3 separate regions of the Homo sapiens genome follow, and all the other regions are reported to be linked to region 1. The links are microRNA targets in miRTarBase. Many come from high-throughput screens and were not tested one by one. Region 1 holds a microRNA gene; each other region holds the end of a gene's coding sequence.
What was found. Region 1 holds the annotated microRNA hsa-miR-1180-3p (UUUCCGGCUCGCGUGGGUGUGU, at 2,273-2,294, opposite strand). A microRNA usually pairs through its seed, bases 2 to 8, with sites in the 3' UTR of a target mRNA and lowers its output. Matches are read on the target gene's strand: a 7mer-m8 pairs with bases 2 to 8, a 7mer-A1 pairs with bases 2 to 7 and ends in A, and an 8mer does both.

Region 1 (4,155 bases):
ACAGGAATTTTGCTGACAACAGACGATGAGTTTCAGAACGCACAGTGAGTTGGGGGGAGGGCACGGGAGTGCTCGTGAGATAAAAGGCAGAAGAGGGTCGGCCCAGATGGTCTCAGGGCAAGTGCCATGACGACAGTCCAGGGCAACATGGGCGAGGCTGGGAGGTGGGGGTTTGCCAGGAGCCTGTGGTTTCTCTTGGATCCCGCTGAGGGCAGTATCTAGGCTGGGGCACCATGTCTGCCGAAAGCTCAGTGGCAGGGCAGAGAGGGCCTGGGGCTGCCTCGTGAGGTGCGAGGGGTTCTTGTGAAGGTGGGGAGGCCCAGGGTCAGGGCCTCCCAAAGTAATGCTGAAGGGGCTCTGCTTCCAGAAGGGCCTGGACAACCTCAGAGGTCAGGGTGTTGAGCCAGGGGGCTCACCTTCCTCTCCTGCCAAGGGGCTGCCAGAAAGCTGGACCCCAGCCAGCGGCCTCCCACCTCTGAGAGGTTTCCAGCCCCCATCCTTGGACTGTGGGTAGGGGGGCAGAGAGGGGAGTGGGCAGGCTGAGGGTCTGCCATCCCCCGGGGTACCTCACCATTCCAGCTCCCAATAACAGGGTTCTGTCCTTGCCAAGGGAGGCTGGTGGCCAGAAGCATGGCTGAACGGGTGATTCTACTTAACCCCAAGCCTCTAAGGAGGGTGCCATGCCCAGTTAGTTCAAGGAACAATGTGTTGCGGTATAGAAAAGGCCACACAGCTTTGAGTGGCAGAACCTGGTTATGTCAAAGCTCCCATCCCACATGCCATCCTGCTGCACGGTCTGGTCTCCTGGCAGCTTCCACGGCACAAGGGGTAGGGACAGGGAGAGCCCTGGAGGTGGGGCCAGGAAAGGCCCAAGAGCCCCCAGCTCCTGTGGGGGAGGGGCTAAACAGGAGAGAAGGCAGCCCCAGGCCTAGGCTCTCTGAAAATGAGACTTTATTATACAAAACTATTCTGTGTGCCCCCAGCTCTGGCCACCAGGCTGCCCCTCAGGCCGATGGGCAGCGGCTGACTTCGGGAAGGCAGCCCTTCATTATCAGAGACTGTGCAGCCTGTGGAGCCTTCACTGGGGGAAGCTCTGGGGTGGGCTGGGCCCCAACACACCCTGTGTATCAGAAGGCCCAGTGTCATAGCCCAGTTTCCTCATGTCCTTGGTCACCACGTTGAAGAGGAGGGTGACAAAGCCCTGAGAACGGACACGGGTCACTGGGGACAGAAGGGCAGCATCAGCCAGGCTGGGCTGGGGCAGAGAGAGACCCAGGTTGATCTGGGAATCTCAGCCTCAGCGTTCTCATCTGTAAAATGGGGACAACAGTGCCTGACCCAAGCCCCTCACTGGGAGGTAAAGGGGCTGCCGGGACAGGCAGACATGACAAACCCTCTGTGCTCCAACCAGGCCCTCATCTGGGAACATTTGTGGGCTAGCTCCTATGTGCCTGGCAGGTCCCCGGCATTCACCCCAACCCTGGGCCCACCCACTCCCAGGCTGTAACCTGTATGGGGGATGGGGGTAAGAGAGGGGAGGGAGCTTTACCTTCCCGGCCTTCACCCTGAGCCACCACCTTGGGGTCTGTGTACTCGGGCCGCCGCCCCATGAACCAGCTGGGAACACAGAAGAACACAGGTGAGCAGGGCCCCACCTGGGCATTCCTGGTCTTGGACGACACTGGATGTGGGCTCTCCTCGGTTCAGAAACCAGCACTCTTGTTCCAACCGCACCCCACCCCCACCAGGAGTCAGGCCCTAAGCAGAGCCTTCCCAGTGGCTGGGCTCCAGCGTGGGGTGTCCCTTGCCGAGGTCACACAGCCTAGCCAGGCCTCATGTGCTCTGCAGCCACGCTGCCTCCGCTGGCCGGTTAGGCTTTTCCATCTCTGGCTTCCATGGGTTTGGTTCACTGGGAATGAGAGCTCAGGAAGATTCTGGGGTGGGGGTGCTACCTGAACCCCCAGAAATCCCAGAAAAGTGACAGCAGCTGAGGTGGGGGAGGGGAGGGGACAGTGTGACCCTCCAGCCTCCCTGGAAGGGGGTCCCACCCCAGAGAGTCTGTGGGGTGGGCAGAAGGGCCAGAACGGCTCCTCAGCCTTACCTCCCACTAGTGTGGGGTCCAGGACATGTCACTTCCCATCTTGGCACCCACCGCAGGCCCTGCCAGGGGCGGCACACAGCCACCAGGCTGAGCATGCGCCCTCCCCAGCCCCAGACCCCAGTTGGGCCAGGCGGGAGGCCAGGAGGCCGGGGGTGTCAGGCCCCGCCGCCGACACACCCACGCGAGCCGGAAACAACCAGGAGCACTATTCCCGGCCGGGTGGGTCCAGCAGCCGCGGGCTTCGCCCCGCCGGGACTCGCGGCCGCGCCTCCTCTGTACCACAGCTCCCAAGGTCCCCCCACGGACACACCCGGCCCCGAGGGTCGCTGGCAACCATGCCGACCCAAAAGCCCACGCACCGCCCTCCCCGCGGCCTCTCCGTCTCTGAGGTGGGCACCAGCGCTCACCTGGGGCGGCTGCAGAGGGGCCCAGGCCAGGGAGGGGCTCTCAGCTGCCGCAGAGTTGGCCTGTGGAGACCACAGCCAGGGAGCACTGCCCACCAGCCCCCAACCCCAAGGAGGGAGCCAGAGAGTGAAAGCCAGCAGGCGCTCCCCAAGGGGAAGGGATGGGCAGCCACAACCCCTGCGCCTCAGTTTCTCCTTTGGGAGAGCAAGACTCTCACAGCACCCACCTCACAAGAGGCTATGTATGAGGACTGGGGCCTGGGAGCATCCCCACTGTGCCCAGCAGATCCCATCCCGGAGCTCACATGGAGCTCCCGTTCCCACTGAATTTCTTTCCTGGGGTCCACCCGGGTGGTCTGCTTAGCTGGCTGGGGTTGGGGAGACAAGACAGGCTGTTCTGGGAGAGCATTCCAGGCAAGGACCTGAGGCAAGGAAGGACCCCTCAGACTGCAGGAACTGAGGTAGATGGGAAGCAAGTGGGCAGAGGCCATGAGGTAGGCAGGGCCCGACCACCGGCCTGGCAGCATTCTGGTTGAAGTTCATTCTGACAGAGACAGGTTCTAGCAGGGGAGGGGTGCAGCCCCAGTTGTGTTTTAGGAACACCGTTTTTCTTGCTATGTGAAGACTAGACTGGAGGGGTGGCAGCAGGCTGAATGACGGCCCCTCAAAGATAGCAGATCCTAGTCCTGGGAAACCGTGCACGTGACCTTATTGAGAAACAGGGTCACGTGCACTTTGCACAGATATGATTAGGCTAAGGATCTTGAGGCGACTATCCAGGTGGACCCTAAAGGCCAGGACTCGAGTGATGAGGCCACAAGCCAAGGAAGGCTGGGGCCACCAGAAACTGAAAGGGCAATAAACAGAGTCTCCCCTAGAGCCTTGGGAGGGAGCACAGCCCTGTGGTGCCTTTTCTGGGCCCAGTGACCTGGATTTTGAACTCTGGCCTTCAGCATACATTTCTGCTGTTTTCAGCTATCACATTTGTGTGTTTTGTTGCAGCAGCCACCGTGGGAAACGAATACAGTGGCCAAGAGTGTTTGGGGCAGGCCCTAGGCCAGCGCTGGAGGATGTGGGGAGAGGCTGGGAGAGGGGTGGGGATGACCGAGGTGTCAGCCTGAGCAAGGAGCCTCCATATCTGGGAAGATTCTGCCAATCAAACTGCCTTCACTAATCAGAACTTTCTCCAGTTTTTGTAATCCAAGCACATACTGCCTTGCCCAGTTGCGAGCCCCTCCACAGGGGCTGTGAAACCCTTTCCTCAGCGAGCTGTCCCCTGGAGGCCCAAAGTCCTCCTTGGAGCTGTGGGCGGTGGAACAGGGTGAATAACCCAGCCTGGATGGCTGTGTGGGTCCCCAGTCTCTTAGGCTTTCCCAACCCACTGATGGGCACTGCCTCGCTGCCTCCCTGACAGCCTGTGGCATGGGGATTGTCACCTCCAGGTGATACTGGCCCAGGTCATCTGGGAAAGAAGTCCTTTGCTACAGGGTGGCCTCCCAGAAGGACTCCTAGGGGCAGTAGGCACACAAATTCTCAGGCTGAGGCCAGCGGAGACCCTGCCCTTCCTCCCCTCCACGGCTCTCAGAGCTCAGTGAAGCATTCTCGGCCCTGGGCGCGATGCTGTCCCTCCACCCAGCAGGGCTCTGGCCT
Region 2 (4,155 bases), not on the chromosome of region 1:
GAAAGGTCCTGGCTTGGGGTAGGTTGGAATGGGCTTGTGGAGCCCTGATGTGCCCTGTCTGTCACTTCTGCAGCCATGTATGAGCACAAGATCTTCGTTCAGGGCATCATCTGGGACATCAACAGCTTTGACCAGTGGGGGTGAGTTGCTCACTTAGGGGAGGGCCGGGAATACCTTTGTGTCGGCTCAGGGATTTCAGTAGCAACGTTAGAGCCTTCCTCATACCACTCTTCCCTTCCCTTCCCTTCTTGGCAGAGTGGAGCTGGGAAAGCAGCTGGCTAAGAAAATAGAGCCTGAGCTTGATGGCAGTGCTCAAGTGACCTCTCACGACGCTTCTACCAATGGGCTCATCAACTTCATCAAGCAGCAGCGCGAGGCCAGAGTCCAATAAACTCGTGCTCATCTGCAGCCTCCTCTGTGACTCCCCTTTCTCTTCTCGTCCCTCCTCCCCGGAGCCGGCACTGCATGTTCCTGGACACCACCCAGAGCACCCTCTGGTTGTGGGCTTGGACCACGAGCCCTTAGCAGGGAAGGCTGGTCTCCCCCAGCCTAACCCCCAGCCCCTCCATGTCTATGCTCCCTCTGTGTTAGAATTGGCTGAAGTGTTTTTGTGCAGCTGACTTTTCTGACCCATGTTCACGTTGTTCACATCCCATGTAGAAAAATAAAGATGCCACGGAGGAGGTTGTAGGCTCAGCCTCTGATTTTTTTTTTCCTGTGATGGTGCTTTATGTAGCAGAGGGCAGGAGCGCTCAGCAGGACGCAGGCTGTGCCTCTGCGGACACTTAACACTAAGTGGTGAGCGGGTCTAGAGTGGAGCAAGGTGCCCTGAGAAGACAATAGTGGGGTGGGGGCACAATCAGTCAGGACGGCAACTTGGCCTGTGTCACCAAATCCCAAGACTGTTTTCCACTCCTCACCTCTGTGACTGCAGAAATTGGATACTCTGTTCACTCGATGGTTCTAAAAACTGCATTGAGATTATGTTTGTTTCGGGTGAATTCCTGGACAAGACCGAGGATGACTGCCATCTCCTGGCAAGACGCTCAGGTAGTTCTTTTGCTTTAAAAGGCAGATATTGAAAACTGGAATTTTTTTTTTTTGAGTCTCGCTCTGTCACCCAGACTGGAGTGCAGTGGTGCAATCTCGGCTCACTGCAACCTCCGCCTCCCGGGTTCAAGCTATTCTCCTGCCTCAGCCTCCCGAGTAGCTGGGATTACACGGCGCACACCACCATACCCAGCTAATTTTTGTATTTTTAGTAGTGAAGGGGTTTTACCATGTTGGGCAGGCTGGTCTTGAACTCCTGACCTCAGGTGATCTGCCCGCCTCAGCCTCCCACAGTGCTGGGATTACAGGTATGAGCCACCACGCCCGGCCCATTTTTTTTTTTTTTTTGACAACTTTTTTTTTTTTTTGAGACAGGGTCTTGTTCCATTGCCCAGACTGGAGTGCAGTGGCATGATCACAGCTCACTGCAGCCAGTAATCCTCTTGCCTCAGCCTCCCAAGTAGTTGAGACTACAGGTTGTACCACTATGCCCTGCTAGTTTTTTCATTTTTTGTAGAGAGACGGGTCTTTTTTTTTTTTGAGACGGAGTCTCGCTCTGTCGCCCAAGCTGGAGTGCAGTAGCACGGTCTCAGCTCATTGCAAGCTCCGCCTCCCAGGTTCACGCCATTCTCCTGCCTCAGACTCCTGTGTAGCTGGGAGTACAGGCACCTGCCACCATGCCCGGCTAATTTTTTATATATTTTTTTAGCAGAGACAGTGTCTCACTGTGTTAGTCAGGATGGTCTCGATCTCCTGACCTCGTGATCCGCCCGCCTCAGCCTCCCAAAGTGCTGGGATTACAGGCGTGAGCCACCGCGCCCAGCAAGGCGGGTCTTGCTGTGTTTCCCAGACTAGACTGGTCTTGAATTCCAGGGCTCAAGAGATCTCCCACCTCAGCCTCCCACAGTGCTGGGATTACAGGCGTGAGCCGCCACACCCAGCCTATTCAAAATTTTTTTTTCTTAGAGACAGGGTCTTTGTTGCCCAGGCTGGACTGCAGTGATACAATCATAGCTGACTGAAGCCTCAAATTCCCAGGCTAAGGTGATCTTCTCACCTCAGCCTTCCAAGTAGCTGGGTCCGCAGATGCATGCCAGTACACCCAGCTCATTTAAAAAAAAATTTTTTTCTTTTTTGAGAGTCTTGCTTTGTTGCCCAGGCTGGAGTGCAGTGGTGTGATCTCGGCTCACTGCAAGCTCCACCTCCCGGCTTCACGCCATTCTCCTGCCTCAGCCTCCCGAGTAGCTGGGACTACAGGTGCCCGCCACCACACCCGGCTAATTTTTTGTATTTTTAGTAGAGACGGGGTTTCACCGTGTTAGCCAGGATGGTCTTGATCTCCTGACCTCATGATCCGCCTGCTTTGGCCTCCCAAAGTGCTGGGATTACAGGCGTGAGTCACCGCGCCCGGCTCATTTTAAAATTTTTGTAGATCAGTGTACTGTTGTAAAAAAAAAAAAATAAGAAAAATAAAAAATAAATTTTTGTAGTGATAGGATCCCACTGAGGCCAGAGAATAGGGTCTGGAGACAAAGGAGCATTCACTTCAGCCTCTGACTGGTGGCAGGCCAAGTCTTTATTTACATAGGGTGTAACCAAATAGGAAACCTCTAAAGGGTACTTAAACCCCAGATTTTCTACACAGGGCACTTGCTTGAGCCTCATCCCGCTTTCTGGAATGTACTTTTGCTTCAATAAATCTGTGCTTTTGTTCCTTCTTTTGTTGCTTTGTGTGTTTTGTCCACCTCTTTGTTCAATATTCCAAGAACCTGGACGACTTGTAGTCAAGATCCTCCCCTGGTAATACTACTGTGTTGCCCAGGCTTATCTTCAACTCCTGGGCTTAAGAGATCCTCCTGCCTTGGCCTCCGAAAGTGTTGGGATTACAGGCGCAAGCCACTGTGCCCAGCATCACAGGGCCTTTTAAAGCTATCAGGATGAAGTGTGGTAAAAAAAGGAGTAAATGGGTTTCATCTCCAGATCCTTGCTGGGCTAGAGCCAAACCTCACAAAGGCTGGTGCTTCCTCCTTTGAGGTGTAAATCCTTGAAAACATTCATTTCTTTTGCATACCACGTTATGAATCCTAAAATAATGTTTTTGCAGCCTGCATTTTTAAAAAGTCAGGTTTATTGGGGTGTGATTTACATATAGTAAGATTCACCTTTCTTTGGTATACAGTTATGAGTTTTCACAAGTGTATATACAGTCTTAGAACCATTACAGATGAGATATACAGCATTTTCCTCACCCTCAAAAGTTCCTGACACTTGTGGTCCAGTCCTACTCCCTCATCCCAACTCCTGACTACCATTGAACTGATTTTTTTCCCTCCGAAGTTCTGCGTTTACCAGAATGGCGCCTTTTGTGTCTGGCTTCTTCCCATGATGCTTTTGAAATTCACCCATGTTGTGCTGCAGGAATTGAAAAAACTGTATTGTGTGGCTGGGCGCGGTGGCTCACACCTGTAATACTAACACTTTGGGAGGCCGAGGTGGGCAGATCACTTGATTTCAGGAGCTCGAAACCAGCCTGGCCAACATGGTGAAACCCCGTCTCTACTAAAAATACAAAAAAGGCCGGGCATGGTGGCTCACGCCTGTAATCCCAGCACTTTGGGAGGCCAAGGTGGGCGGATCACCTGAGGTTGGGAGTTCGAGACCAGCCTGACCAACATGGAGAAACCCCATCTCTATTAAAAATACAAAATTAGCCAGGCATGGTGGCACATGCCTGTAATCTCAGCTACTCGGGAGGCTAAGGCAGAAGAATCGCTTGAACCTGGGAGGCAGAGGTTGCAGTGAGCTGGGATCACGCCAGTGCACTCCAGCCTGGGCGACAAGAGCGAAACTCCGTCTAAAAAAAAAAAAAAAAAAAAAGCCGGGCGCCGGGCGTGGTGGTGGGCGTCTGTAACCCCAGCTACTGGGTGGGGCTGAGGCAGGAGAATCACTTGAACCTGGGAGGCTGAGATGCAGTGAGATGGCGCCACTGCACTTCAGCCTGGGCGACCCAGCAAGACTCTGTCTCAAAAACAAAACAAAACAAAACAAAAATAAAAACTGAAAAATCTCAAACATATAAAACCCAAATAGAATAAATCTCCATGT
Region 3 (4,155 bases), not on the chromosome of region 1:
GCCTGGCAAGTTTATTAAATTACATAAACATGCCTGATGCGGCTGCTCACGCCTGTAATCCCAACACTTTGGGAGGCCGAGGCAGGCAGATCACCAGGTCAGGAGTTCGCGACCAGCCTGACCAACATGGTGAAACCCTGTCTCTACTAAAAGTACAAAAATTAGCCGGGCGTGCCGGGCGCGGTGGCTCATGCCTGTAATCCCAGCACTTTGGGAGGCTGAGGCGGGCAGATCACGAGGTCAAGAGATCGAGATCTGCCTGTCCAACAATGGTGAAACCCCATCTCTACTAAAAATACAAAAATTAGCTGGGCGTGGTGGCACGTGCCTGTAGTCCCAGCTACTCAGGAGGCTGACAGGAGAGTCGCTTGATCCCAGGAGGCAGAGGTTGCAGTGAGCTGAGATCGTGCCACTGCACTCCAGCCTGGTGACAGTGCCAGACTCCATCTCAAAACAAAACAAACAAAAAAAACCTGAAAGAAACAAAATGCCGCAACAAACATCCCTATCCTTATAGGGATAAAATCGGAATAATAAATTATCGTCATCACTGGAGACCAGCATGAGATCCTCTGAGGCAGTGGGAATTTTACTGGTTAGGTTCATCACCTTGTCATGATGACACGAGAATGGGCCCAGAAAAAGGTTTGGGAAACTCTCCAGAAACTGAGTGAGGTTCCTTGGTTTGGCTGCCTCGTCTGTTTCTGAAATTACACGTTTTCAAAACTCAACTAATTTCCCCTGTCATCTTCCCCATTCCTCAGATGATGCCTCATCATTCTGTGACTGCTTCCGATAGCTCCTTTGCCAGGACATTTGCCAAGTCTTGCTAATCTTGCCTCTTCTGCTCCCTCCTATCATGGCTTTGATCAAGCAGGCCCCGTATCATCTGGGGTTGCATGCCCTGAACTATTGGGTTCCCTGCATCCAATCCTTCACAATGCTGTCAGGTCTAGAAGCATAACCCTACTCCCCGCACCCTCCTATTCAAATACCTTCAATGTTACCCAGTGCTTACAGGATAAAGGTCAAATTCCTCTTCCTGGTATCCATGGCCCTCTATGACACAATCCATTTTGTTAAACTCTAACTCTCCAGTATCAAACTCCACGTTTCCTGGGCACAGTACCCTGTGCTTTCCCAACTCCATGAAAGCCATGCTCACAGGCTTTCAATAGGAATGCGTCCCACCCTACATCCCCAAAAGGTTCAGCTTAAGTGCTACCTCTGATCCCAGATGAAGTTCTGACTCTGTTCTCTGAATATCCACTTTGCCTTCATCACTAGCAACTAGATCACAAACTCCAGGAGGGCAAGAGACACTCTACTTTCGTATTTCCAATGCATTCGAAGATTTTGGTCTATAGGAAGCAACAGGACAGTTGTTTTAAGCCTAGGGACAGCCCCCAACAAATTCACAGGCAGCAGTCAAGTGAATCTCCTTTCCCAAGATTTTGCTGCAGCATGTAATGAAAGCCCTCAAGCATCCTCCCTGCTGTGATGCCCCTCAACAGTCCCTCAAGGGCTGAGACCAGATTGGAACCACTGTACTTCTGGTACCTCCTAGAGAGCTAGGCCAAACAAGCAGTGGAAGAATAATTAGGACAAAAGTTATCCAGTAGGCCAGGCGCGGTGGCTCATGTCCGTAATCCCAACACTTTGGGAGGCTGAGGTGGGCAGATCACCTCAGGTCAGGAGTTCGAGACCAGCCTGACCAATATGATGAAACCCCGTCTCTACTAAAAATACAAAAATTAGCCGGAAGTGGTGGCATGTACCTATGATCCCAACTACTTGGGAGGCTGACAGGAGAATCACTTGAACCTGGTTGGTGGAGACTGTAGTGAGCTGAGACTGCACCACTGCACTCCAGCCTGGGCAACAAGAGCAAAACTGTCTCAGGAAAAAAAAAAAAAAAAAAGTCCAGTATAGTTTTTTCCCCCTGGTTTTTGATTAGTTCAGATCTTAATGTGATGAGATCATGATACCGCAGATTCATGGCAATTTCGACAAACAGCACAGAACTCTATATTCATGAACAACTCATCTGGTAATGCTCCAAGTTTCCAAACTGATTCATTCTTCATCAGCCTGGCCATACGTTTCTTAAGAGAAAGGATGATAAATTCCTCGGAAACCTGCCTTTATTCTGTTGGTGAGAAAAATCCTTTAGGAACGTGTTGGTTCCCTAAGATGGGTGATCCCAAGGAACAAAACAGTCATTACACATGAACTTTTTTTTTTTTTTTTTTTGAGACGGAGTCTCGCTCTGTCGCCCAGGCTGGAGTACAGTGGCGTGATCTCAGCTCACTGTAACCTCCACCCCTCGGGGTTCAAGCGATTCTCCTGCCTCATTCTCCTGAGTAGCTGGGATTACTGGCGTGTACCACCATGCCTGGCTAATTTTTGTATTTTCAGTAGAGACGGGGTTTCACCATGTTGGTCAGGCTGGTCTCGAACTCCTGACATTGTGATCCGTCTGCCTAAGCCTCACAAACTGTTGGGATTACGGGCGTGAGCCACCGTGCCCGGCCTACACATGAACTTTTTATGCTAAGAAAAGACATATCAAGATATATCAGAAAGTACAACTTCAATTCAAACACCATGAAATTTTGTCAAGCAAAAATAGTCTTTATTCAAATTTAATGGAAACAGGGGTCACTATACTTTGCAAGACGGGGAAAAATAAAATTAAAAAAAATTCTTTTCTTTTCTTTTTTAATATAAAACAATATAATCACAATACCAGAATATGGAACTCTACAGTTTATTTCCTATGGGTTACTGCAGGTATCAATTTTCCTCGACTGTGCTATTCACAACTTTGTTAAGTCCAAAAATATGAAACCAAAGTGGTAGGAAACTTAAGACTTAGCACTTTCACTAAATGGCATACATCGAAGGGCATCAATTCAAGAGCAAAAATGGTTGAACTCACCATACCTACCTATGTGGTCATTCCAGCCTTAGAGCCGTCCAGGTTACTGAGCTCCCTGTAGGAAAGGCCAGGCCTGAAAGCCAAGGCGTTTTGGATATTCTACTGTGGGCCATGAGTAAAAGGGGATTTTCAAAGAGAAAATTTTTTTCAGTCGAGCAGGAAGGCCTGGTGCCAGGAGGCTTTACTGAGAGGAAGCACTTAGATTTAACAATTATAGACACACCATTAGGGGAGTTAAAAATGTACAGCAGTGACATGTTCTACTCCAATCACTTGTGCTACGGCTACCAAACATGTACAAAAGACTTCTCGGGTAGTTCCAGCTGTGGCCATAGCCAGTTAGGACCTTGAGTGGGACCTAGATCTAGATCGGGAGGGCGATCTGGAAGCAGACCTGGATCTAGACTTGGACCGAGATCGGGTTTTTGAAGCTGACTTTGATCTGGAGCGTGATTCTGATGGAAGGTTTGGTTTCGATTTGGAATTGGATCTCGACCTGGACCGGGTCTCCTGATTGGTGCCAGCATTCTCACTCTCTCCTCGACCTTCCCTCTGGCTGGATTCAGACTTGGCATGTTCCCGCTCCTTTGACACGGAGCGGGATGGAGATCTGGACTGGGAGCGGTCAGTGTCTTCCTTCTTCTTCTTCTTGCTGCTGCCCGCCTTGCTGTCTCGCTTGCTGCCTCGCTTTCTGCTCCTCTCACTCTTGCTGCGGCTGCGACTGCGACTGCGGCTCTCCTCTCTGCTTCTCTTCCTGCCCTTCCTCTTGTCCTTGCTCTTGCTGCGGCTCCTGCTCCGGCTCCTGCTGCCCCCTTTGCTCCTGCTCCGGCTCCGACTCTGGCGGAGGCTCTTCTCCTGGCTCCTGCCCCTGCTCACACTCCCTCGCTTCTCCTCCTCCACTCTCCTCTCCTGACTCCTGCTCCGACTTTTGCTCTTACTTTTATGCCTGCTAGGACTCCGGCTCTTGGGTTTCCCGACATTGTCATTGTTTTGGATCTTCTCTTCAGCTTGGTCTTTGCTCTTGCTGCGGCTCTTGCCAGCGCTATGGCTGCGGCTGCGGCTCTTTTCCTTGCTGGGGCTCCTGCTTTTCTCTTTCTTGCTCCGGCTCCGACTCTGGCTCCGGCTCCGGCTCTTGCTCCGGGAGCGGGAGCCCGACCTGAGGAGACATGGGATACTGTTTGTGTCACATGTGACTTCATGCTAATCAGGAGATA

Region 2: miRTarBase lists GPI as a target of hsa-miR-1180-3p. The part of its 3' UTR that is shown has no 7-base or 8-base seed match.
Region 3: the mRNA of SRSF4 is a reported target of hsa-miR-1180-3p. The part of its 3' UTR that is shown has no 7-base or 8-base seed match.

The regions. Positions count from the first base shown.
Region 1 is chr17:19,342,241-19,346,395 of GRCh38, forward strand. MIR1180 (microRNA 1180) reads right to left here and starts at 2,334; the gene lies at 2,266-2,334. It overlaps B9D1 (B9 domain containing 1), which reads right to left. Exons shown (of 7, transcript NM_015681.6): 6 at 1,550-1,617; 7 at 935-1,221. The coding sequence ends at 1,079. RefSeq lists a silencer at 3,356-3,650 and an enhancer at 3,356-3,650.
Region 2 is chr19:34,399,646-34,403,800 of GRCh38, forward strand. It overlaps GPI (glucose-6-phosphate isomerase), which reads left to right. Exons shown (of 18, transcript NM_000175.5): 17 at 74-140; 18 at 256-2,768. The coding sequence ends at 391. Among named protein-coding and RNA genes, the nearest start is that of PDCD2L, 2.7 kb to the right of the region's middle.
Region 3 is chr1:29,145,130-29,149,284 of GRCh38, forward strand. SRSF4 (serine and arginine rich splicing factor 4) reads right to left here. Exons shown (of 6, transcript NM_005626.5): 6 at 2,614-4,097. The coding sequence ends at 3,281. Among named protein-coding and RNA genes, the nearest start is that of TMEM200B, 23 kb to the left of the region's middle.